5 separate regions of the Homo sapiens genome follow, and regions 2, 3, 4 and 5 are each linked to region 1. The links come from fine-mapping of genetic effects on gene expression. A gene starts in region 1. Each other region holds a variant in brackets. All regions are shown on one strand. Distances are from middle to middle.

Region 1 (5,107 bases):
AGGCTGGAGTGCAGTGGCACGATCATGGCTCACGGCAGCTTCGACCTCCCAGGCTCAAGTGATATTCCCACCTCAGCCTCCCAAGTAGCTGGGACCACAGGCAAGTACATCACACCCAGCTAATTTTTGTATTTTTTGTAGAGATGGAGTCTCCCTTTGTTGCCCAGGCTGGTCGCAAACTCCTGGGCTCAAGAGATCCTCCTGCCTTGGCCTCCCAAAGTGCTGGGATTACAGGTGTGAGCCACCACACCTGGCTAAGAAATTACTTCATTATCACTGAGTTTATACGTCAGAAGTGTACACTCTTAAAACATAAATGATTAACAAGCTAATCCTTCCTTCCTTACATTTGGCACCATTTCAGTGACATTAAACAGGACACTGACATTCTTGCTTTAGACTAAAAATGGCTCCCTCCATCCAATTTTAACCTTCTTCCAATACATCTTCCACTCATTCAGTGATCTAAAATACAAATTTGAGCACGTCAACCCATTGCTTAAAATTCTTCAACGGATTCCCATTGCCTACAGGATAAATGCATACTCCTTAGCTAGCCGTAAGAGGCTCTTTATGATTTGGTTCCTATTTTTCTGGCCTCTTGTTCTGCCCCTAAGCCTCTTGCCCCTCACTCCTCTCCTTTGATCGCCATGTACAAAACTTGTTCCCACCCACTCAAACATACAACTCCATCATTCTGTGCTTCAGCTACACCAAACTACTTTCAGCTCTTCAAATTTGCCAAACTTTTCCTCTGGGAACAGTAGGGCATGCAATCCTCTCTACTTGAAACACCATCCCCTTCACTATCATTCTGCTCATCAGTTTAGGTATCATCTACTGGGCCTGAATTCCAATTCTACCATGGACTAAATTCTCTTCCTTCCCCTTCCCTTCTCTCCTTCTTCAACTACCCAGGCTTTCTTTGTATATCTTGCATCTCTCCTCACTTTAGCTTCTTCACCACTACTCAACCCTGGGGATGGTAAATGTGGAAGGCTTTCATAAATTTCCATAGCAAAAGGAAGAAAATAGCTAACTTAAGGCCTCTAAATCATATAATATATATGCAGAAATAAATATAAAGGAAACTACCATTCCATTTGATAGTCTCTTTTAAGAAGGCTACATATCTATATCCCTTCATTCTTTCAAAATATTCTAAATCAAGTAAATGCATGTTTAAATCTCCTTTTTATTTTACCTGGGTCACCCTCAGCAAAGTCTGCACCAAAATAGTGTTCTGAGGGATTCCAAGCTTCACTATGGCGTGAAGACTGAACAGTAGGTACTTATACTGCATGATCTTGGCTTCTCTCATCATATGTTCACAGAGCTGATTAAATGCAGGGTGGCTAAACATCAGTCGTTTTTCAAAGCGCTTCTGGTCATCAGACAGTCTTTTGGCAATTGTCCACATTGCTGTGAAATAGTTGCTACTAGGAAATGTGGGCGCTTTTGAAAATGCATCTAACACATCACTCAGGGAATTACATTCCTCAGACAGTTTTCTACTGCTGATACGGTTTGGTTTTGTTTCCTTGGTAAGAACATCTTCATTGGAGACTTCATGATTAAGGTTTACTTTCTTCAATTCATCATCAGATTTATCAACAGGGACAAGAGACTGCTTTGAGTCAAAAAACAGTCTTTTAGCATAAAGTAGTCTTTCAATTCTAAGGGCTGTTAGAGTGCTTATGCCCTTTGTTTGAAAGCCAACATCTGATTTAAAAATGAATGCATCCTGAAAGAGATATCTAATGATATCAGTTGATTGCATTCTGTTATGAAAGTTATTTAAAATGTTCCAGTTTGAATGAACTATTTTTGGTTTGCAAAGTCCCAAACAACATAGCCTCATAGTTCTGCTTGTTGAAACTAATGTACTGAATTGTCTAAGGTTCCAGAAAAAGGAGCCCGCTTTGTTATTCATTTTGCTCTCCACTGAAACACTTCCAAATGGCTTCAAAGTTGTCAACATGAAACCAACGTCACTTCTACTAGTGAAAAAGAACACGTGCTGTCGTTTTCCTGTAGGGGAAGAAGTAATGAAAAGAATAAAAATTAAAACAAAACTTTTACTTAAAGAAATGAAATGCATTTAACAGAAGAGAAAATGGGGAACCTATGGAGCCATTAAACATTTACATAAAACAGTAAAAGTTTTTTTTACCAATGTGGGCTCCCTCCAATCTACCACAATGTGTCCAGTTTCAAAGAAGCCAGGTCACTTTGGAAGTAGTCATTGTATTAATGAGATTTTTCTGGTGCAAAAGCGTTCCATAAAGCTTTCTCTGTAGGAGAGACTTTTGTTGGCATTGTTATGGAAATGTCCTCGGTGAAAATTAGGGGATTAGCATTGATAGATCATTTTCTTTTCTCTTCTCTGTTTTTTTTTTTTTTTTTTTTTTTTTTGAGACAAAGTCTTGCTATGTCCCCCAGGCTAGAGTGCAGTGGCGCGATCTTGGCTCACTGCAACCTCCACCTCCCAGGTTCAAGCAATTCTCCTGTCTCAGCCTCCCAAGTAGCTGGGATTACAGGCGTATGCCACCACGCCCGGCTAATTTTTGTATTTTTTGTAAAGACGGAGTTTCACCATGTTGGCCAGGCTGGTCCTGAACTCCTGACCTCAGGTAATCCACCCGCCTCGGCCTCCCAAGGCGTGAGTCACCGCGCCCGGCTGATAGATCATTTTCAACATGACGATTTAGCAACGGCCGAACCCAGACCATCAAGAATAGGGACCTGGGCAGGTAGAACGGCTCAGTGGAAGAAGCAGAAAACGAAAGCGATGTCTGCACGTGGCCTGCGCTTAAGAGGAAGATCTTATACAACCAGCCAGCCTCACCAGACCCCAGAACCAACTTCAAGAGCCTGTCCTTCCGCAGCTGGGCCGCCCAGCATTAACCCACCTCCTTTAAACTTACTTCCAGGACAACTCGTGAGACTCTTCTCCTCGAAGTAAAAAGTCTAGGATGTGATACGGGCTGCCGCTAAGCCCAAGCTCGTCCTCCACTCACCTTAGAGCACAAGACCGTGACTACGTACAGGAGCAGCCATGACAGCTTCCCCGAGAAGCTGCGCTTCTCACGAGATCTTACGGATTCCCTCAAAGGTCAAAAAGCATATGTTCGCGGCTGTAGCTGAAGGACTTACTTGAAGAAAGTTTACCAAGGAGAATGACTAATTTCCCTGCATACAGGAGTGGGGCTCGGGGATACCACAGAGCTTATAAGGGCGATGTTTGATCGTGTATCGCAACGTAACCCATTCAGGTCCTAACTTTAAACACCTAACCTCTGCTGGGCGCCAGACTTTGTAGTGCGCCTGCGCCTTGCCCTTGGCTGCGTGGTTGCCAGGAAACCGCGAAGCCGCGGTCCCTGCCTCTGAGTCTCTCTCGACCATGGCCAAATTCGTCATCGCGGGTGAGTGATCCCCGCGTCCGCCCGCAGATTGCTCAAAACGCCGACAACAGCTCACCTCCCATGGCCGCTCGGCTTGGCAGCCTCTATACGGACCGCTCCATGCTTTGCTATAGATTTATTCAAAGTTTTTTACTGGACCGTGACGGTGCGCCAAGCATTGTGGGACACTGGGGATGCAATGGAGGGAAACATATCCCTGCCTTAGAGGAGCTTTCAGTCTCATGGGGCACAGAACATGTACTTTTGATACGGTGTGATTAACGCGATGAAGGAGACCTGCACAGGCCTCTGGGAGCGTAGACTCCTAATCTGGGTTTGGGGGATGAGGGAGAGGTGGACACAAGGAACTGGCTGGGGAAGGTATTACAGGAGCTGAGTTGTGAAGGTGTGAGCTGAGGAGGCTATTCCAAATAAAAGCAGAGAGGCAGGAAGCTTCCTGGCCTAACAGAAGATCTGGATATGTGGGGCGTGACAGGACCTGGGGCTACAACAGGAGCAGGAGCCAGGTCCTTGCATTTCATGTAGGTCAAGCAAAGGTGTTTGAACTGTATCCTGAAAGCAATGAGGAATTATAGAAAAATTTTAAGCAGGAGAGTAGTCTTAATGAGTTTGCATTTTAGGAAGCCTGTCTTGGCAGCAACGGAGAGAATGATTGAAAGTGCTGGTTGACAGCAAGGACTCAACTGAGAAGGCTTTTATTACAACAATCCATGGTACCTACCTCCTCTCCTCGTAAAGTTTCTTAAAAGAGTAGACTGCTCTTCCATCTCCAGTTCTGCCTTCCAATCAGTCTTGGAAGAAGGCTTCTACTTCTGCTTCCTGACAGAAACTGCTGTCACCAAAGTCACCACTGACTTTTATAGAAGCTGTTTAGTCTTTGACTTATTTGATCTCTTTGATGCATTGAACACAATTGACATCTACCATCCACAGGAGATTTTTTTTTTTTTTTGAGACAGGCTCTCACTTTGTCACCCAGGCTGGATTGCAGTGGTGCAATCGTGGCTCACAGCAGCTTTGACCTCCTGGGCTCAAGCGATCCTCCCACCTCAGCCTCCCAAGTAGCTGGGACTACAGGCATACACCAGCATGCCCAGCTAATTTTTGTATTTTTGTAGAGATGGGGTTTTGTCATGTTGCCCACGCTGGTCTTGAACTCCTACGCTCAAGTGATTTGCCCACCTTGACCTCCCAAAGTGCCAAGATTACAGGCATGCACCACCACACCTGGCCCAGAAGAATATTTTTGAACACTGACTAACCACATGGTGGGAAGTCAGTGGAAAACACACAGAGAATGTTGCATGTATGACACTGACAGGGCAGGGTTCTATAGGAACGATAGCAGGGACCTTACTTAATCAGGTAAGGGTTTCCCAGAGGGAGAGATTTTAAGCAGATACCTGAAAGATGATAATGAATTACCTAACAGAGAAGAGGTAGAAAGGAGGGGAGCAATTTAGGCATGGGTAACTGGGAGTGGGGTTAGAGCAAGGAGAACTAGTTTGGTGACAATTGAGAATATAAAATAAGTATAAAATTGAAATAAGTTTATTAGGACTGAAGCAAATAGTACAAGGAAGAGAATTTCATAAGGTGAGGCTAGAGTTAGATAATGTAGATTCTTTTGAGCCACATTCAGTAGTTTAGACTTTATCCAGAGTACATGAAAGGTTTTTAGA
Region 2 (5,107 bases), 53 kb after region 1:
CCCTCCCCCTCGCCTCTGGGGAGGAATCTCAATGAGGAAGGCAAAGCCCAAGGAGGCTGGGAAATCCTGGACAGGCACCCAGTTTCTCCATCCATCCAAACCTAGGACCCAGGGCTTGACAGTTCCTCCCCCAAAAAGTAGGATTGGGACCCAGAAGGACCTAATAGCTCCTGCCTGTTCCTACCTGCCTGTTCCCTGATTCCCACCTGTTTCTACCTCATTCCTGACCTCCCATTCCAGCCACAGTGAGCAGCTCAGCATCTTATCCATCCTCCATGCCTTTGCCCAGTCTGTGTTCTCTGCCTGGAATGCTGCTTAGTATCTTAGACATCTGTTCCTTCAACATGCACTAAGTAGCTACATTAGCACTACTAATGAAACGCTGAATAAGACGAGAAAAAAAAAAAAAGAAATTTAGGCTGAGTTAAGTTTGGGAGGGAACTATCCCTGGGAGACAAACAGAAAGCTCTAAGGCTGCTATCTTGAACAACTAACTGGTCAAGGCCCTAACTGAAGTCCATTGTGACCACCACTTGTGATGCTCTCTGCCTTTGGCTTTGGATTCCACTTGAAGACATGGGACTCCATGTCAAGACTGGACACAGAAGTCCTTGTCACACCTGTGGCTGGTCTCCCTGGCTACACCATGCAGCCATTCATTCCCCCACTCAGGGGTCTGCTAGGAAGGACAGCCCTGGAAACACCTCCTAAACCCAATCTTAGTCAGACATCTCCCAACTTCTTGTCCAGGCATCAGCCTCTCTCCGCCTCCAGGAAAATTCCAGATTAATTCTTTCATGGGCCTGTCCATCTTTTCATACAAAGGCCTGAGTGGAGGTGACTTCAAGAGCCGTCTTTACGCAGTGGCTCACGCCTGTAATCCCAGCACTTTGGGAGGCCGAGGCGGGCAGACCATGAGGTCAGGAGATCGAGACCATCCTGGCTAACACGGTGAAACCCTGTCTCTACTAAAAATACAAAAAATTAGCCGGGCGTGGTGGTGTGCGCCTGTAATCCCAGCTACTCGGGAGGCTGAGGCAGGAGATTGGCATGAACCCGGGAGGTGGAGCAGTGAGCCGAGATTGCGCCACTGCACTCCAGCCTGGGTGACAGAGCGAGACTCCGTCTCAAAACAAAAAAGAAAAGAAAGAAAAAAGAGTGGCCCTTAAACACAGAGACACTGTTAGATCTCCCAGAGGAGTGAAAATAGCTTAGACTTACAAGATGAACACAGAAACATTGCCTTTCCATTCTTTAAATTCTCCCCTTGCTGCAAGAACGAGACAAAAATGAATGTCACCACAAATGACCTTGCCACATATGTTTGAATCAAAGAAGTACACCAAGCAGTTCCTTGTTTCATTTTTGCTCAGGGCCTGTTCCAAGGCTGGAGACTCGGCTGTGTTTCTAGTCACAAAACTCCCCAGCACACCCTGCTAACTCCTCATTGCCTGAGTTTTATGTTAATCGGCTGACATTACATTTGAAAGTAGTTTCATTTTCCTCAAGACTTCTTCCTCTGGGCACCATAAATACAAGTAAGTCTTGGCTTCAGAGCTTGCTTGTGTGTGAAATCCTTGCCTCAGAATGAGCGTTTCTGGGTGTAAACTCTAATTGGAATTTGTTATCACCGGAAACACTAGAGATGCACCACTGCTTGGCAGTTCTTTCCAAAGTTTGTGACTGATTTCCTCTTTCACCCTTCACTATAACTGTGCAAATCTTCACTATTCCTCAACCCCACCATGTCCTCCTAACTCTAAATGTGTGAACATGCCCTCAACTTTACAAAGAAAACAGAAGCTCTCAGACATGGCCATCCCCCCAGCGCATCATCTCCTTTTATGCTTCCTTTCAGGGAATGAGAGATGGCTTCTTACCAAAGCTAATTCCTTCACCTGTGCATTTTCCTCCCTCTCTCTACCACAGCGATGGGAGCAGTTAGCAATACTTCAGCGATTGTGGCAGAAAACTTACCTCAAAAAGGCTGTGTTACCTTATAAAATTAATAACCCAATCAAGAGATCTACTGTACAGCATGGTGACTATAGTTAATAACAATGTATTATATTCT[T/G]GAAAATTGCTAAGAGAATAGATTTTAAATATTCTTACCACAAAAAATAAATATGTGGCATAATGTATATGTTAATTAGCTTGATGTAGCCATTCCACGAGATACACATATTTTGAAACATGCTGTGCATGATAAATAATACAATATTTATTTGTCAATTAAAACAAATGAAAATAAATTAAATAACCAAAGGAAGGACTAGCTTTCCTGGGCTGGGACATTGTCACCAGGAAGCGGTTTCTCTCCATCTCTAAGTTCATCTCTGCTCACCCTTGTGTGTTGATTTCATTCGCAAGCTACACAGCCTGACAAGAGGGTGATTTCTGCTCCAATCTACAATTCCAAATTCAAGTCGAGAAAAAAAATTCTGCTTCCCTGATAACTTGAACCAAGAGTCCTTGAACCCAGATTCATTGGAACATTACTTGCCTGACTTTGGTATGTACCCACCTCTGGGGAAGGCGACGGTGCTCTCACTGATGGGCTGGGCCTGGGCCACATGCCCCCATGGAAGTGGGAGAGTTGCAGTTGACACTATTGGAATTTCATGGACTCAGATTAGGGGAGGTGGTTCACCTGGAGAAAGAAAAATGGATGCTGGGTGGCTAAGGGAACATGTGCCCTCTGAGAGGGACTTTGCTACATCATATACTACCTGGATCCCCTACTTCCTGAGTCCTCAACCCCACTCTGTCTCTCCTGGCTCCTCCTCCCTGACCCATACATTCTGGAATCTCTCCTGCCTTTGAAAACCACTTTCGATTTTATGTGTTGTTCTAGCTGTGGCTCTCTTGTCTTCCCTTCACGTTATAAGATCTTGAAAAAGTTGTCTGGTTGTATGTTTTCTCCTCACCTTACACTCAGTGCTCCATCCTCTGCAGTTTGATTTTGACCCCCATGACTCCACTGAAACTGCTGTCACAAAGACCTTCAATAATCAAACTAGTCATAAAAAGCAGAAGCAATAAATTCCCTTTATACCAGTAGTTTTCAAACTTTCGTTTGCATCAGATTTACCCCCGGGGCCTGCTAAGACTCAGGTTATTCCTTAGATTCTCACCCCTAGATTCCGACGTTGGCGACTTCTTAGACTTTTGTTAGAAATTGTTTTTCTCCCAAGTTCCCAGGCGATGTTGCTGCTGTGGTTGGTTCAGGAACCATACTTTAAGGTCTACTGGTTTATACCAACAATAAGCAGTTAGAACAGGCCATTTTAACTGCCTAAAATAAACTAAGCTATTAATGTGTATGATCTTATATAACTTTATTGAATAACATTAAAGATAATATGACTAAATGGGGAGATCTACTCTATAGTTATTTTTTCTAGATATGAAGACTGATCATTTCAGTCTTCAGCAACAGAAAGCTCCGTTGTAACGTTGTTATAGTCTCTTAAATTAAATAAAAATCAAATTTGGAGCATCAATGGAAAAAATTTAAAATTGTGGGTCCTTAAGAAAGGTAAGAGAATTGAACAATGAGAACACATGGACACAGGAAGGGGAACATCACACACTGGGGCCTGTTGTGGGGTGGGGGGAAGGGGGAGGGATAGGATTGGGAGATACACCTAATGTTAAATGACGAGTTAATGGGTGCAGCACACCCACATGGCACATGTATACATATGTAACTAACCTGCACATTGTGCACATGTACCCTAAAACTTAAAGTATAATAAAAAAAAGAAAAGTAAAAAAAACAAAAAACAACAACAAAAAAAAGAAAGGTAAGAGAAACAATTTAGGAAGTATATTGCCTACATTTTCTTATTTAAAATGTGCAAATACCCTTTGAGGAATGTGTTATAATTCCCATTTATCTGAAGAAGAAACTGAAGATCAAAAGTAACTACTTTTAAGGAAAAAGGAAGGAACAGAACTAAGTATAGCTGGCTCCAGAGCTCTCTCCTCTCCTCTACACTGTGAAATGGGCAAGTACACACTCAGTGCTCAGGAATGCTCGCTATTGTTGTACTGCTATTGGTGATGGTAACTCTCAAAAGAAGGTATATTAATAATTCTTTTTCTGATTATAAAAATAGCCTACACTTTTTATAGAAAATTTAGGTAATATTGAGCAGAGAGAAAATAACCGCGAACACTAATAATTCAAGCACTCAGAGATGTCCACTGTTAACAGTTTGGTGGTTGGTACTAGAAGTTAAGCTCCACAAGGGTGGCCATCTTTATCTATCTAGTTGAATGCTATATTTCAAGGGCCTAGAATCATGCCAGGGCCATATACTAAGGGCTCAATAAATATTGGCTAAATGCATGAGTAGATGGATAGCTTTGGAGTCTTTTTCATTTATGCATAAATGCATGTGTCCACATATAACTAGAATATATTTGCAAACTTGAATTTATATTCTACATGTAGTTTTTTTTATCCTGTTTGTTTCAAAGGCCATTGACTTTTTATATAAAAAGTGGACAGATTGATGGAGTATTCCGTCACTTTTTGGTGGACTGAGAAGGTGAACTAGGTTCACCTGTAGCCCTAGAATAATGTAAGTCTATTTTTATTTGTTTACAGAAAAAAAAAGAGCTCTAAACCTTAATTTCCTCACCTGCAAAATAAAGTAAGCTTACATGATCTCTAGGATTTCCTTCCATGATGTGGGATTTATATAATGAGAGAGACTTTATTCATAATATTTTACGTTTTCTTTACAGATGCTCTTAATAGTATTGAGAATTCCATTTATAGAACAGCCTTCAAATTACAATCAGTGCAAACTCTGTGCCAGTGTAAGTATAGGCTCTCCTGAAATATTTGAAATAATCTGAGCTTGATGTGCGATGTAAAATTCATAGAGAAAACAAACACTCCCCCCATGCAGCTGACTACTGGATTCTGGAAGTCTGGACTTGTGCATTTAGCCCATTCGTGACAGAGAAGATGGAGGATGGGAAAACATCACGTGCAGGCAAACCATGTGTAGTTTTGCTGATGAGCAATAGAAATAATTGTGCATGAGGATTTTTAATTTTTTAAATATTTTCTCCACTTGGCTTCTTCTAGAAA
Region 3 (5,107 bases), 37 kb before region 1:
CCAGGCTGGTCTCGAACCCTTGGGCTCAAGCAATCTGCCCACCTCTCAAAGTGCTGGAATAACAGGCATCCTAGAGAATTTAAATGACAGAGGCAGTGGCTGGAACCCAGGTCTCCTGATTCTCAGCCCAGTGGCCCTCCTTCTCTCTCCCTTGCCTCTCTACTATTCAAAATACAAAAATGAAGAGAAAATGGGCCTTTCTTATTCATGCGGAAATTCATTCCAACTTGACAGAAAGGTACCCATGTAAAATGTATTGTTAACTTCATATCCTAGTATATAAATAAGAGAAAATCAATAAAGCATTTGTTTGAAAATGACTTGCTTTCTGTTTGGTTGGTACAAAGTTATATCATATATGATATATGGCTCTGGAATCAAATCTAAAAATTTAAATTACTTGCTCAAAGCCACATGGCTGATAAGTCTAAGTCTGAATTTTTTCATCTATAAAGTGGGCATTAATAATACTTACCCCAAAGTTGAAGTGTTTCATTTAATCAACCTTTGAGGAAAATGCTTAAAAGATAGTGGCTATTGTTGTATTTTATGTGGTATCTGTTGGTTTGGGCTTCAAATACTCTTCCCGGGAGACATGCCGTACACTTATTCCCATGATGCTGTCATTGTTCAAAATATTTGGATGCACTTTTCTTCTGGAACTGCCTTCTGAGTTAGTTCTTATCTGAAGAGAAAAATTAACTCTTCATGCCTATATTTAATCAAAAGGAATGTAACTTAGTTTTATCAACTTCATTCACCAAAGCTAGCTGGGAGGTACTTTTAACCATTTGTTTAAACCAAAGCCAGATACAAAAGATGAAGATTTGCCATGATTGAGAATTTGCCCACAAAATTTTGCTTCCTTAAGTGAAGGGGATACATATTTTACTTGCTGGACCGAGCTCAGAAACCTTGGGAAAGTCATAAGCCACGGAACCAAACCCTGTTCCAGAGCTGAGAAGGTGGAAAACGGGTGTGTGGATGACTCAAGGTCAGCCCTTGGGAAGCTGGAATTCTCTGGAACTTCTGAGAAAGAAAGACAGCCTCTCAGAAACAATTACATGGGAATTTTCACAAGCTGGGAAGATCCCTGTAGCTCTAACCAGGATTTGTTCTCATTCTGTGGGAGGAATGGAAGGAAAAAGAAGTCTTTGAGAGCCCTAAGCTCCTGAACTTGAATGCAAAGCAGGCTTTGGAAGTCAGAAGAGCACTGGGCCACTCCTATCTCGTCCTTGTTCAGGATAAATGTACCCCCTATACCATGCGTTTCCCCCAACACACACCACACACACACACACACACACACACACACACACACACACACACACACACACACCACTAAAGAATAGACTTCCTGCCTCTGTGCTCTACCAGAAACTTTCAGCATCTAGGGTTAGCATCTTGCCTTCCATTTGCACCTCAAACATTTCATTCTTCACGTTGTTATCATTATCACCCTATCATTACACTGCTGGTTAATCATGATTAAAACAATAAACAAATAATTTTTCCCTGGTGAGCATAAATAATTGCAGATGAATACATATTGTTCGGGCCCATGTAACATTATATGCTATTACAGACAGTATGAGAGGATGTTTTATTGTAAGAGATAATTTTTCCTAATTGTAATGTTTACTCCCTTCAGATTCTAACCTTCTGAAGGCCCAACAAAGTCACCTAGAGGGAGTTTGCAGCTCTTGCCTGCAGTTTAGGGAAAAGTGGCTTTTCTACTTGGTGATAACTCTAAAGTGAAAATGTGAAACCAAGTGGAAGAGGCCAGGGGGTGCTTTTTCTACCAGATGTTAAAAGAAAAAGAACACGCAGGATCTAAACTCTAGAGTGAGCCTCACTGCTGGGGGTGACAGAGCAAGAAGAAATCCAGGGGTTCATTCGATTAACTTGGAAGGCTCTTACTAGGGGACACTAGTTTATTGAACAGGCTGGGTCAGTAGCTCCAGCAGGCTGGAAACAGCTCCATCTTCTTCCCTCCCTTGCCCATCACACTGGCTCTGCCAGCTCTCCCTTCCCACCTCAGAGAGGCCATCTCCGGCATATGCCAGAGTATTTTTGGTTGCACATGGCTATTAGCAGAGC[C/T]TCATTTTAAGGTATTAAAAAGCTCATCACCTGATCTATTCTCAAAATATGCAGCTCTCACCCAATCTAAGATTCCTTCCTTTCTTCCAGCTCAGTAATGAGCAGCAGGGGGAGGAGGCTGTGGAATCTTCTTTTGCTGTTTGCCCCCCTTGCTCTGTTTTCTGCTCCTCCTGCCCCGCTCACTGTGCTGCCTCTGGCATCTCCAGGGCCAGGTGGGGAGGAGGGACTAGAGGTAAATGGGTCTATTCACTGGTGACCTTGCAGTCTGCGAGGATGCCCTTTGTGTGCTAGATGCTCAAGTGCTGGCTCCTCCTCACATGAGTGACTTTTGTGGGTTCTTAAGAGACACCCCTACTCCCACCTCTCTTTCCATGGCGTGTCTTTCTTACACCACAGCATTCCCTGACCTGACCCCCACAAGGCACTCTCAGGCTGACTGTGAAGACCCCATACAGCCTCTTTTTGCTGAGATTTCTGAGCTTTGGCAGGACGTCCTCTAGGACAGGTGCCTTTCAGGATGACTCAAGCCTGCTAGTTTCTTCAGCATTCGTTTAATCCACAGGAAATATTATGCATCCATGCCATCCCTTCTCCCCTGCAAAACTTGGAAGCCAAAAGCCTTCTTACAGCCACCTGTTTTTGCTCTGCCATCAGCAGCAGCTCCAGGCAGCCTTCTGCCTTTGGGCTTTTCCAGGCAAGAGTCAGGCTTCTATCTCCAGTCACCTTCCCACACCTCCTACTCTCACCTCGCACTCCCACCCCCGACCAATGTTTGAAGGGTCTACATCAAGCTCTCAAAGGAACTTGGAGTCCAGGCTTCTGGGTGTCACTTCATGAGTTGTGCCTCTACCCCACTGAGTGAACAAATCTAAGCCACCGAACATACCCTGTGGGATTGGGGTTATGCCCCCACCCTTCCTCTCCATACACTGGGCCCCATGCATGGCAGGTGGCTCTGTTAAAGATTACTGACCATTTTTCTCTTGAGACTATTGTAGCTTTTACAGCGCTAAAAATTTTAAGCATAACACCCTTCTCTACCATCATCTTAGGCAATTTACAGAGATAAATTTATGATTTTGCATCTATAGCACATGAAGTATGGATTTTTAAAGATTCATTAGAATATATAATTCTCACATAAAAACATTTATACTCATAAACAGTATTTCCATAAAGATGATCTCATTAGATATAAAGTTTATCTCTGGTGAATTAAAGTTAATCCTGAAAATCTTGTCAACCACACATAATATATGGTACCTAATGTATCTGATACATTCTGAAACAGATAAGTGGATGAAATATTTTTAAAGCACCACATCTAGTAAGGCAGCAGAGAATTAGAAACGGATTTTATTTCTTGTTCTTCAATATAGTAATTGGTGACCTTGAGAAATGCCATTTAACCTTTTCATGTCTCAATTTTCTCATCTATAAATAGATATAATCATCACAAAGACCCGCTGTGAGCAATAGATGAGATAATCTTGAGAGCTCTAAAGCTCTACATATAACAGAAAGGCATTATTGGGATTAGGGCAGAGGATCTGCAGCTCTGCTGTTGCCTTGAACAATTTCCATGATTCTGTGACTCACTTTTACTACCTGCAAAATAGACACCGGAAGGCGTCTCTCCAGTTTTCCTTAGAAGGCAGAGTCTGTATAAGAGAAAAAAGCTGATTTCAGGGTCCAGCAGATTTAATTAGCTGCACAACCATGGGCCAACTCTCGAGTGTTAGAGAGGATAATGATGACTACCTCACAGGGTTGTGAGAATCAAATGTCTTAAAGGAGAACAGTGCTTAGTAAATAGCTAACAGTGCTCAGCCTGTACAATTGTTAGAATCAATATTGGGTTTCCACTGAAAATTACCATGGGGTTACCTTGCCGTTTACTGCCTAGGTCCAGTCATTTCTGAATAAGATTAGTTGCTATGGTTACCTTCCCAAAACACCACAGTTGAAAACGTGTTGGAGATGGGAATCGATGGTAGGAGGCTTTAGCGGAGGACACAAAGCAACTTCAGCCACTGAGACATTTTAATACATGTAAACTCCTTCCCTTGGAAACCTAAGTCACATTTTGCCAAAATGGAAATGAACTCAGGAAGTGGACTTTCAGAAGTTCTGCATTTGGCCAGCCTCCTTCCCCCATCACCAGGCCCTCAAGGACAGGTGCGTTCTGGCCCTGAACCAGCTCCAGAGCATCTCAGTTTCTTACCCCAGGATCTGGCAGTTGGAAAGATGTTGGTTGCCAGGCAGAATTCATCAGATTCACTTCCCAGATGCTATCGCTTCTGATGCCGAAAGAAAAATAGGTTGCCCAGCAATTGAGGTTGGAAAGGACAGGTGTAGCTGAGAAATGCACAGTGTTGCACAGAAAACAATAATGGGTTATTTTTGTTAAAATTCATTAGCATGCATATTTGTATATTCCAGGGGTCCTCACATCCCGCAAACATACTTAGTCTCTGGAGGGGCTAGCACTAACATCCCCGGTTAAAGTGTCCCCCACAGGAGTGTTATAAATGGTATTTGATCTGTCAGAATCAGTCACAGCTCCAACAGCTCTCAGCAAATGAATACAAGTTGGTCTGACCCTGCTTCCTGTTTCCAACTAAAGCAAACCGAAGACCTGAAGAGGCCTCACAGGCAAGAGTATTTTGCACCCGCTCCTAGTGAAAAGACTCTTTTCTGCCTGGTCTTTTTTCCCAGACATCCCAAGGAGCTGTCCTGCTCTTATTTGAAATTCAAACCAGAAGGAAGTCACCTCCGCAAATGCCAAGTGTCCAGCCTCCACTTCCATGATGATTCAGCACCACCTAGGGGCCATTGTCATTCATTTCTTGCCAGGCTCATTTCTTGCCATATTCATTTATTGCCACAATAGAATTCCTTTTTAAGTATTGCAGCTGCACCCGCCACCGCCCCCTCGCCACTGCCATCCACATAAGAAAAGTACAGAAGCTTCTCTACACACATTTTTCAAGACTCGGTTCCAGAT
Region 4 (5,107 bases), 23 kb after region 1:
GGTAACATATTTATTAATTTCCTAGGACTACCATAACAAATTACCACAAAGTGGATGGCTTAAAAACAACAGAAATTTACTTGTTCACAGCTCAGGAGACTAGAAGACCTGATGTGAGGTATCAGCAGGGCCACACTCTCTCTGAAGGCTTGAGAAAGAATTCCTTCTTGCTTTTTCTAGCTTTGGGTTGCACTGCTTGCATTCCTGGCTTGTTGCTGCATCACTCCAACCTGTGCTTCCCTCTTCACATGTCCATCTTTCCTCTGTGTGTGTCTGTGTTTCTAAGTCTCTCTTTCTCTCTAAGGATACCAGTCATTGCATTCAAGACCTGCCCTAAACCAGTCTGAACCCATCTTAAATTGATTATATCCACCAAGACTCCATTTCCCATAAGATCACATTCATAGGTACCAGGCGTTAGGACTTCAACATATATATATATATTTTATTTATTTATTTATTTATTTATTTAGACAGAGTCTTGCTCTGTTGCCCAGACTGAAGTGCAGTGGTGCCATCTCGGCTCACCACAAGCCCCGCCTCCCAGGTACGAGCGATTCTCCTGTCTCAGCCTCCTGATTAGCTGGAACTACAGGTGCACACCACCATGCCTGGCTAATTTTTGTATTTTTAGTAGAGACGAGGTTTCACTATGTTGGCCGGGCTGGTCTCAAACTGCTGACCTCGTGATCCACCCACCTCAGCCTCCCAAAGTGATGAGATTACAGGCATGAGCCACCATGCCTGGCCAACTTCAGCATATCTTTTTGGAAACACAATTCAACTCACAACACCAGATTTATTTTTAGATAACTTTATTAAAAGCCAACAAATTTCAAGAAGCTTATTTTTCTTATTGGTATTTTCTCCACTCATAAGAAATAGGGGAGGGCTGACATCTTTTCTTTGCCTTAAAGATGATCTCATCTTAGGTATGGATATATACATGTAGAAATAAATCAATTTATTTATGCAAAGGGCTTTAGTCAAGTGTCTTTTGGAGCCCAATATTCCTTCCTTCTGCTAATGTGTGTGCAGTACCAACTATAAGCCAGTGCTAGGAGCTGGAAATACAGAGGTGAATGAGATAGACCTGATCTTGCCCTCTGGGAACCTGCAGTCCATCAAGAGGCTGGCCACACATTATATAGATGACTGCAACTGTGGTGCGTGGGAGGAGTAAATGTTGGCTGCTGTGCTGTCAGAGCTCATGCCTGCGGATAGAAGGGAAGAATCTGAAGCAGGAAAGTACATATCAACTTGTTTGGAAAAACTGTGGAAAAGCTCATGTGGCCAAAGCCAGAAGAGATGGAGCTGAGAGATACAGCCATGAGGAGTAGATGTGAGAGCTACAGAAGATTTCTAGATGGAGAGAACCTGGTCAGTTGTGGGATTAGTTTGAAAAACATCCTGGAATAAGGCAAGGCTGTTTGCAGAAAGACTGGTATTGAGGGGGAGTGCATACAGCCAAGACCAGAGGCAGTAGAAATTTGAGAGATATTTAGGATGTGGAAATATCAAGAATTGCTGATGAATCTGATTGGCTTTGGTGAATCCCAGGGTTCTTCTGGCTGAACAACTGGGCAGATTTACTATTGATAAGGGGAAAATGGTAAAAGAATGAGAGAGAGAGAGAAAATATGAGAATGTGGGAGGGGTGTGTGTGTGCATGCACGCCTGTGGATGGAAGAGGAAGAAGCATGGTGCCAGATTAGAAAAAGCATGAGTTTCATTTCTTACATTTTGATTCTGAAATACCTGTGTGATATCTAAAATGGAAATGTCACATGGAGAACTGCATACTTCCTGGAGCTCAGAAAGATCTGGACTACAGTTGCCAAATGGGGAGTTGTTGCCTCATAAATAGAAATGAAGCTATCAGTATGGTGGAGATTGTCTAGAGAGAAGGTAAGAGAAAAAAGCCTGGAGGAACTTAGCCTGTCATGGTTAAGTAGAACAGGAGCAACTGACAGAGGACCATGAGAAAGGGGTGGTCAGAGAGTCAGGATAAGTCCCTGGAATCTGATGATGTAAAAGACCTGAAGGCAGAGGGTGTTTCAAGAACAAGGACTGTTCTACACTGTCAGATGCTACTGGTGTGTCAGATAAAATGATACCTGAAAAATACCCAATGGATGTATGACAAAGGTCATTTGTGACTTTAATGAGAGCAATTTTGTGCAATGGAGAGGGCAGAAATGAGACCAGAGTAGAAAGCTTCCTGAGCTGCAACATTAAACGCCAAGTCCCTACTTAGTAGGCCCAAGTCAATAAATTCAGCCTGATCCAACTCTGTGTTCCTTCAACTATTATCCCATACCCTTAATATCCATTCCCATACCTGTTCTCCAGATTTCTGTTTATATAAATTAGAGACATCGGCTGGGCGTGGTGGCTCACACCTGTAATCCCAGCACTTTGGGAGGCCGAGGTGGGCAGATCACAAAGTCAGGAGATCGAGACCATCCTGGCTAACATGGTGAAACCC[T/C]GTCTCTACTAAAAATACAAAAACAAAATTAGCCAGGCATGGTGGCAGGCACCTGTAGTCCCAGCTACTTGGGAGGCTGAGGCAGGAGAATGACGTGAACCCAGGAGGTGGAGCTTGAGCTGAGATTGCACCACTGCACTCCAGCCTGGATGACAGAATGAGACTCTGTCTCAAAAAAAAAAAAAAAAAAAAAAATAGAGACATCAAGCAGCTCTTTTTGAGTGTAGCACACTTCTTCATGGGTCATACTCTCAACCTCACCTCTAGAGGCCCACCAAGACTTTAGTCTAGTTATAGGTCTAGAAGCAAACAAGGGTGTTAGGGGTGGCTACTGAGGAGAATCAACATTTTCCCTGGCAACTGCCTCAGGGGAGGCCGTCACTCTTGCCTCAGGCAGCACAGGGTTTATCTCCTCAGACAAAGGTGGAAAGGCTGATGACAGCATGGGTCAGGGAGGGGATGTTGCCACTACTGGGTATGGGGAAGCTGTTCCATCTGGCAAAAAAGGTTCATCAGAGTTTACAAACTCAGTGTCCCCAGCTTCATCAGGGTTCTCCCACACGTCTCCATTCCAAGTTGCAGCATCCCATTCTTTTCCAATTAATGCCCTCACTTTAACAGGAGACACCTGGCAAGGCTGTGCATACACTTTTCGTTGCAGTTCAACCACTCACATAATAAGAGCTTGTGTCTGTTTTTCCACAATTTCAGCTCTTTCTCTACAGGAGATAAGACTCACTCAGGGCAATCTTTGCAGATTTGAGGCTCAGTATCTGCCAGGAGACAGAATCTCTGAGTTCATCATTTTCTTTCATCACTTTGTCCACTGAACTTAGGAGCAGCTAACCAGCTTCATTATGTTCCTTTGTTCACCACATATGGTCAAAGGTATTATGTATAGAGTCACTAAACTCCCTGCCTCTCATGGGCAGTGAATCAGGAGTGTCAAATTCATTTATTTTGCATAACTCATTAAACAGTTCATGCCAAGGACTATCAGTGTTCTCCATACTATTAAAAGTAGAGTCCTTAGGTCCTTAGCATTTGGAGGTCGAATCATACTAAGCAGCCAACTCCAGAAACCCGAAAACCAACAAAAGAACTCCATCCTTAATATTTTGTTTCTCTAGAACCACTCCTGGTACCAAAATCTGTATAGTCAAGGTTCCGTAGAGGGACAGAACTAATAGGATACTTATGTATAAATAAAGGGGAATTTATTGAGTATTAAGTTACACAATCACAGGGTCCCACAATGGGCTGTCTGCAAGCTTGAGGAGCAAGGAGAGCCAGTCTGAGTCTCAAAATTGAAAAACTTGGAGTCCAATGTTTGAGGGCAGGAAGCATCCAGCATGGGAGAAAAATGTAGGCTAGGAGGCTAGGCAATTCTCACCTTTTCACATTTTTCTTCCTGCTTTATATTTGCTGGCAGCTGATTAGATTGTGCCCACCAGATTAAGGGTGGGTCTGTCTTCCCCAGCCCACTGACTCAAATGTTAATTTCCTTTGGCAACACCCTCACAGACACACCCAGGATCAATACTTTGCATCCTTCAATCCAATCAAGTTGGCACTCGGTATTAACCATCACAATTAGAAAAAGATAAGTATTATTTCATGTATTTTTTTGTTTCATTAATATGTACACAAATGTACACATTGGACTATAATGTAAAATGTGTCTTTTATTGTGGGTCATAGTCACTGAAGTTTGAAAAACATTGACTCAGAACATCTCATGACCTAGTTAGGTTGTTGGTTATATTCTAAATCCAGCATGTTTTATTTAATTTTGATTTCAGGACATAAAGATCTGGTCCCTGATGAAGAAAAAAATCTAGCTATGTCAGATGGTAAGTCAGTGGGGTTATAAACAATGTCTATATTGCTAATAGTCGTGACTCATATTGTCCAGTTGTTAGAGAATAATGTTATGGTCTAGCGACCAAAGCAAGTTTTAAATAACTGCTTCTTTTCATATGCTTCACAAACACTTTGAAATGGGCATAAAAATGTCAACTTTTTTTTAAAAAGCACTAAAACTGCTTCCTTGTCATATTCACCTCAAACTCTCCCAAAATACTCTAACTTCAGCTCCAGTCCCTTGTATCTCTTGCTTCTCACCTTTCCCTTTTCTTCTCAATTCTCTATTATGAAGCCCAAAATAACCAATAGGGCAAGATAGCATCTTCCTCAGAACACAGGTGAGAGGAAAAGACCGAGAGAACCAAGTTAGAATTCTCCTTAACAGGGAAAATCTGGGATTTTTTGTCTCATTATGTGTATATATATCTCATCATATATATAATTTATAATGTATTACATAAATACACACACATATGCTGTTGACCCTTGAACAGCATGGGTTTGAACTGTGCAGGTCCACTTATGCAGATTTTCTTCCACCTCTGCCATCCCTAAGACAGCAAGACCAATGCCTCCTCTTCCTCCTGCTCCTCCCCAGCCTAGTCAACATAAAGAAAATGAGGATAAAGAACCTTATGATGATCCATTTCCACTTAATGAATAGTAAATATATTTTCTCTTCCTTATGATTTTCTTAATAACATTTTCTTTTCTCTAGCTCACTTTATTGTTAGAATGCAGTATGTGATACAT
Region 5 (5,107 bases), 90 kb before region 1:
GTCTCCATGCATAACCAGAAGATCGCCTGCTCTGGGGCGTGGCCCCCCAGTCTATTTGAGGCCTCCTGGAGTTCACCCAAGTAGGGGCTAGAGGCTTCCTCCTCCCTGCTCTGTTTGCACGAAGTGGCTCCCCACAGCCTCTCCCACAGTTGTGCTTCTTCTCCCACAGTCCTTTGGCCCTGCTAAGGCTGCTTCCTTCCCCTCCCTTCCCTAAGTTCCATCCCCAACCCCCGACAACGTGATCCATCCTCTCTCCACACAGTCTGTTAAAGACTCTGAGCCCAAGGTGTATTAGTCTGTTTTCACACTGCTGATAAAGACATACCCGAGACTGAGTAATTTATGAAGAAAAATAATTTTAATGGACTCACAGTTCCATGTGGCTAGGGAGGTACCACAATCATGGCAGAAGGCAAAAGGCACATCTGACATGGCAGCAGGCAAGAGAGAATGAGGGCCAAGCAAAAAGAGAAACCCCTTATAAAACCATCAGATATTGTGAGACTTATTTACTACCATAAGAACAGTATGGGGGAAACTGCCCCCCATGATTCAATTATTTCTCACTGGGTCCCTCCCACAACACGTGGAAATTATGGGAGCAATTTGAGATGAAATTTGGGTGGGGACATAGCCAAAGCATATTACAAGGGTTAACATGGAAAAGGAAGGAGAGACCCTTATTGTGGTCAATGCTAAGGTTAGAAAATGTAAAATATAATCTGCAAATCTCTGAGAACTACAAAGATTGAATTTGTGCTAGCCAGTCTCCTGTAGCTTCTAATGCCAAGAGTGGTTGCTTCCCCAACTTCTGTTGTGTTCCTAGATGGAGATGGAAAAATAATGCATACATATATACACAGAGTTTCCCTATTTCCTTAACTTTGAGAGGATCCTAGTTCTCTCAAAGAGAGAAGAGCTGGTATACCCTTCCTACCACATTTACAAACATTGTTTCTAACTTAAATAAATGAGTTACATAATTAAGTGCTAAAATATTAGATTTTTTTAATTCACATGCACATTAGCAAGTAAAACCTAAAATAAAACAAAAGAAACCATGACCCAGAGCACCACTGCAGGAGATTTAGGGAAGGGCAGGAAGCATTTTTGTCCATCCCCAGGGATGAGCATTTTAGCTGCTGTGTCTTCTTCATTGGAAAAAAAGGAAATCTAGAGGTAGTTGCTGGGCAAAGGAAATGGGGAGAGGCACTTTGTTAACTCTAGATTTTTCTACATTGAAGCCTAGAGTCACCATTTCTTTTTCAATAAATTCTACTCCATCCTTCAAACTCTCTCACATTCTCTGTAAATCTTCCCCCTTTTTACACTAATCCATAATGATTTACTGCTCTCTGAACAACCATTACTGTGAAGTGGTTAAGATCAGAGGGCCTTGGGATCAGTCAGGTTTGAGTGTGAATTCTCATTCTGATATAAATTTATTGAGTGAACACTGGCAAGTTATTTAACTTCTCTGAGCCTCGGTCATAAAATCTAATATTTATAGGTCATTGACTTTATGTCAGGCACTGTTTTAAGCACTATACTTACATTATCTCATTTAATATAAACTCTATAAGGTAAGTTCCACGGTGATTATCCTTATTTTATAGACAAGGAAATGGAAACAGAGAGAGGGGCATCTGCGCTCAAGGGGTCACCTGGCTGGTAGCAGACGCTGGCACAATGACTCAATGTCTAGGAAGGAATATTCTCTCTCTGCAGTAGGGAATGCCAAGAGACACCGGGGACCAGGACCTTGCAGTCTGATTCCATAGCCTGGCACCAACCACTGCACTTCACTGCCTCCCCACACCTGTGTACTGAGGCTGTGGGTTATGGTTGGAATTCAAAAGAGCTAAGGATATAAAGTTCTTAGCATGGTATCTAGAATTTAGCAAGCACTGCATAAATGGAAATGATTTTTATTAAGAGTGACTATTTAGATTCTATTAGTACCCACTTATCACTTAGATGCTAACTTGTATTATTAACTCTATCTCTGTCCTATCTTCTTAGCATACTGTAGTATCCCTGAGAGAAGGAGCCAGGTCTCTTCTCTAATTCCCCATAACACAATACTGGAAACCATGTGCTGATGTATATGGATTACAGATAATTCTAGACTGAGGCAGTGTCTGTTGCTGTTTTTTCCCCCAGTTTAATCCAAAGAAATCAGCATTATGGCAGAGTATGTGTTTATACACATTCTTGTCTTGTGTCTTCATAATATGCACTGGCTTGAAAACACATATGAGTCATGGGCCCTGCCATAAACCAGAGATATCCAGAGAGGGAAAGAAATAAAATAAGAAGGAAGGAGGGAGAGAGGGAGGGAAGAAGTGAAGGAGAAAAAGAGAAAGGAAAAGAAATTCTGTCTCCTTTTCAAGAATTTGGAAGCATCCTTAAGACAAGTGGTGACATTCCTCTGTTTGATGACATTCTTCTATTTGTCCCAAACCCTAACTTCCAAGGGTGATTGCAAGTTGCATCAACCACCATGC[A/G]GGGAAAACTTTTATCCCTTGTAAAAATCAGGCAAAATCAAATATGTGACAGGTCATGAAATTCCCATCCTGCTCCAACAGAGTCAGTGTTGCTACCTTAGGAATCAGGAATGTAAGTCCTCTGCAAAGTTGTCAAGGAGGTTTCTATTTTTGGCCCTCAGTCTGTTGCAGCAGCAATGAGAAAAAGCAGGCCAGAAGAACACAAAAAATAGTTGAGGGCATCTGTAATATCTGTGAAAGGGACACGGGAGGCACTTGCATATGTCAGATGGAAGGGAAAATTGGAAACAAAAGGAAAATCTGGAGGCAGATGATTTAACATTCATTTATGCATTCATTCAACAAATATTTGCTGAGTGCCTACTTGATGCAAACCCTAGCACAGGGTGAGCTTATGGAGGGTATAAATATTAAAGAGGCCCAGCTCCTGCCTTTACCTTACAGTCAAGTGGGGGAGGTAGAGCATGCACATATTTTTTATTTAGTGGTGTCATGTAAACATTTGAGGTGGGAATCTGTGAGTTAAAAGGCTGTATTAGCCATGCTTCTGAGAGTGAAGACACAAACGAACCTGGCCCGCAGCATCATCTGCCAGCACGAGGCACCACCTTCCTGCTTTACCATAAACCAACAGCACCAGGTCCTGTGCCGCGGGCCCAGACTCAGGCAGCGCAGTTACGGGAGCCTCTCGCCTTCAGGGGTAGCAATGGCTCCATGATTTACACTGAAAAACCTGCATTCAGTGGCAGAGGCTTCCCTACTCCAAGATAGATGGCTTCAGAATTTCGGGGAAGTGGTGTTCTGTGGTGGTCAAGACAAAGGCTTTGGAAGCACAGTCATGGGTTTGCTTCCCAACCTTGCCTGTTGGTTCCTTGACAAATGAACCTCTGTTTCCTCCTCTGTAAAATGTCAGTTGAGATTCTCTGAAATAATATTGCAAAGTGCCCATTACAAAGGGCTCAAAAGAAAGATCTTAAAGTTGTCACAGTCATCTTGTGGTCAAAGAGCCCTGCACTACTATCCCAGGTCCTAGTCCTGCAGCTGACTCCGATCTTCTTTCTGTCTTGTGTGATGCTAGGTCAACTATTTCATTGTTCTATTATTCTCCTTTTTTAAACTGTTGTGGTAAAATAGACATAACATACATTTTACCATTTTACCATTTTTAAGTTCATTAAGTACATTTACATTGCTGTACAACCATCACTACCATCCATCTTCAGAACTTTTACATTTTCCAAACTGAAACTGTGCCCATTCATCAATTCCCCATTTTTCCCTCCCTCAGCCTGCGGCAACCACCATTCTACTTTCTGTCTCTATGAATTTGACTACTCTGGGTTCTCATTTAAGTGGATTCATGCAATATTTGTCTCTTTGTACCGGTCTTATTTCACTTGGATAATGTCTCCAAGGTTCATCCATGTTGTAACATGTATCATAATTTCATTACTTTTTAAAGCTGAATAATATTTCATTGTATGTATATATCATATTTTGTTTATCCATTCACCTGTGGGCATTTGGGTTATTTCCACCTTTTGGCTATTGTGAATAATGCTGTCAGAACATGGATGTAGAAATATCTGTTCAGCTCTTTCTCACTTAAAAAAAAAAGTTTTAAAAATATTAATACTGTAACTTCTTATCCGTCTGTGTGACAACATAAGAATTGATAAAGTAATTCCTTAAAGTATCTGTAGTCATAGTAGGAGTGTCAGGGAAGCTAATTAATTTTGGTCCTATAGTTTTTCCACAAATCTTTGTTACCAAAAAGTAAGCACCCTTATAACCAACATAAGTCTTATCCATACAGGTTGGCTGTGTTTAAAACTAAATTATTAAATGTACAAACATTAGAAAATATACTATTGTTGAACTTTTAAAAACCATTCTATGTTTCCTGTAAGGAAATAGGGCATATATAGAAACCTTATACTTTGATGTAACCATAGAGAACAGGGATTGGCTAATAATAGCCCATAGGCCAAAATCCAGCCCACCACTGCTATTTACAACGTGCAAACTAAGAAGGTATTTTACACATTTTCAATGGTTGAAAAAAATAATGAGAACAATACTTCACGAGATATGAAAATTGTACTAAATTCAAATTTCAGCACGTGCAAATAAAGCTTTTTTGGAACCCAGCCATGCCAATTCATTTTTATATTGTCTATGGCTGCTTTCAAGCTACAATGGCAGAGCTGAGTAGTTGTTACAGAGACCATATGGCCCACAAACCCTACGTATTTATGATCTGGCTCTTTATAAGAAAAAAAATGTGCAACTGCTGATATAAATCATTGATCTAATCTCACTTCATAATTTGCAGTGGAGAAAACTAGGGCCCACTTTTCTGAAGTGTCACGTCACACCAGAGATTAGGAATCTAAGAGTGGCCAAAAGCAATTCAGCTATCCTGAGTCCCCACCTTGCGTCCCTAAACCAGGTTCCAGTGTATTCCTGGGATACAGCATAGCAGCTTATCTTACAGCTATAGATCACAGACCGAAGCCACCATTTGTTCATGTTAATAATGAAGAAAGTCTGGTGCTGTTAATTTCCTCTGCTGGAAATAAAGAGACATATGCTTACTT

Direction of the effects. Alleles are on the strand shown, and positions count from the first base shown. SD is a standard deviation of normalised expression in the study named. Not every link is listed here.
As copies of G replace T in region 2, the expression in tibial nerve of the gene that starts at base 3,069 in region 1 goes down (small effect, 0.19 SD a copy in GTEx).

Evidence for each region. PIP is the estimated chance that this variant, and not a neighbour inherited with it, causes the effect.
Region 2: its variant is fine-mapped to the expression of FASTKD2 in tibial nerve (GTEx, PIP 0.97).
Region 3: its variant is fine-mapped to the expression of FASTKD2 in whole blood (TOPMed, PIP 0.95).
Region 4: its variant is fine-mapped to the expression of FASTKD2 in whole blood (INTERVAL, PIP above 0.99).
Region 5: its variant is fine-mapped to the expression of FASTKD2 in monocytes (TOPMed, PIP 0.96).

The regions. Positions count from the first base shown.
Region 1 is chr2:206,763,568-206,768,674 of GRCh38, reverse strand. FASTKD2 (FAST kinase domains 2) reads right to left here and starts at 3,069. Exons shown (of 12, transcript NM_001136193.2): 1 at 2,928-3,069; 2 at 1,205-2,031. The coding sequence starts at 1,981. It overlaps MDH1B (malate dehydrogenase 1B), which reads left to right and starts at 3,347. Exons shown (of 12, transcript NM_001039845.3): 1 at 3,347-3,425. The coding sequence starts at 3,404. RefSeq lists enhancers at 2,799-3,178, 3,429-3,568.
Region 2 is chr2:206,710,247-206,715,353 of GRCh38, reverse strand. It overlaps DYTN (dystrotelin), which reads left to right. Exons shown (of 12, transcript NM_001093730.1): 2 at 4,756-4,830. Among named protein-coding and RNA genes, the nearest start is that of DYTN, 5.6 kb to the left of the region's middle. The variant T/G (reference allele first, on the strand shown) is at 2,075.
Region 3 is chr2:206,800,515-206,805,621 of GRCh38, reverse strand. No RefSeq gene overlaps it. Among named protein-coding and RNA genes, the nearest start is that of MIR3130-1, 20 kb to the right of the region's middle. The variant C/T (reference allele first, on the strand shown) is at 2,101.
Region 4 is chr2:206,740,288-206,745,394 of GRCh38, reverse strand. MDH1B (malate dehydrogenase 1B) reads left to right here. Exons shown (of 12, transcript NM_001039845.3): 10 at 4,291-4,341. Among named protein-coding and RNA genes, the nearest start is that of MDH1B, 22 kb to the left of the region's middle. The variant T/C (reference allele first, on the strand shown) is at 2,489.
Region 5 is chr2:206,853,809-206,858,915 of GRCh38, reverse strand. No RefSeq gene overlaps it. Among named protein-coding and RNA genes, the nearest start is that of MIR3130-1, 73 kb to the right of the region's middle. The variant A/G (reference allele first, on the strand shown) is at 2,508.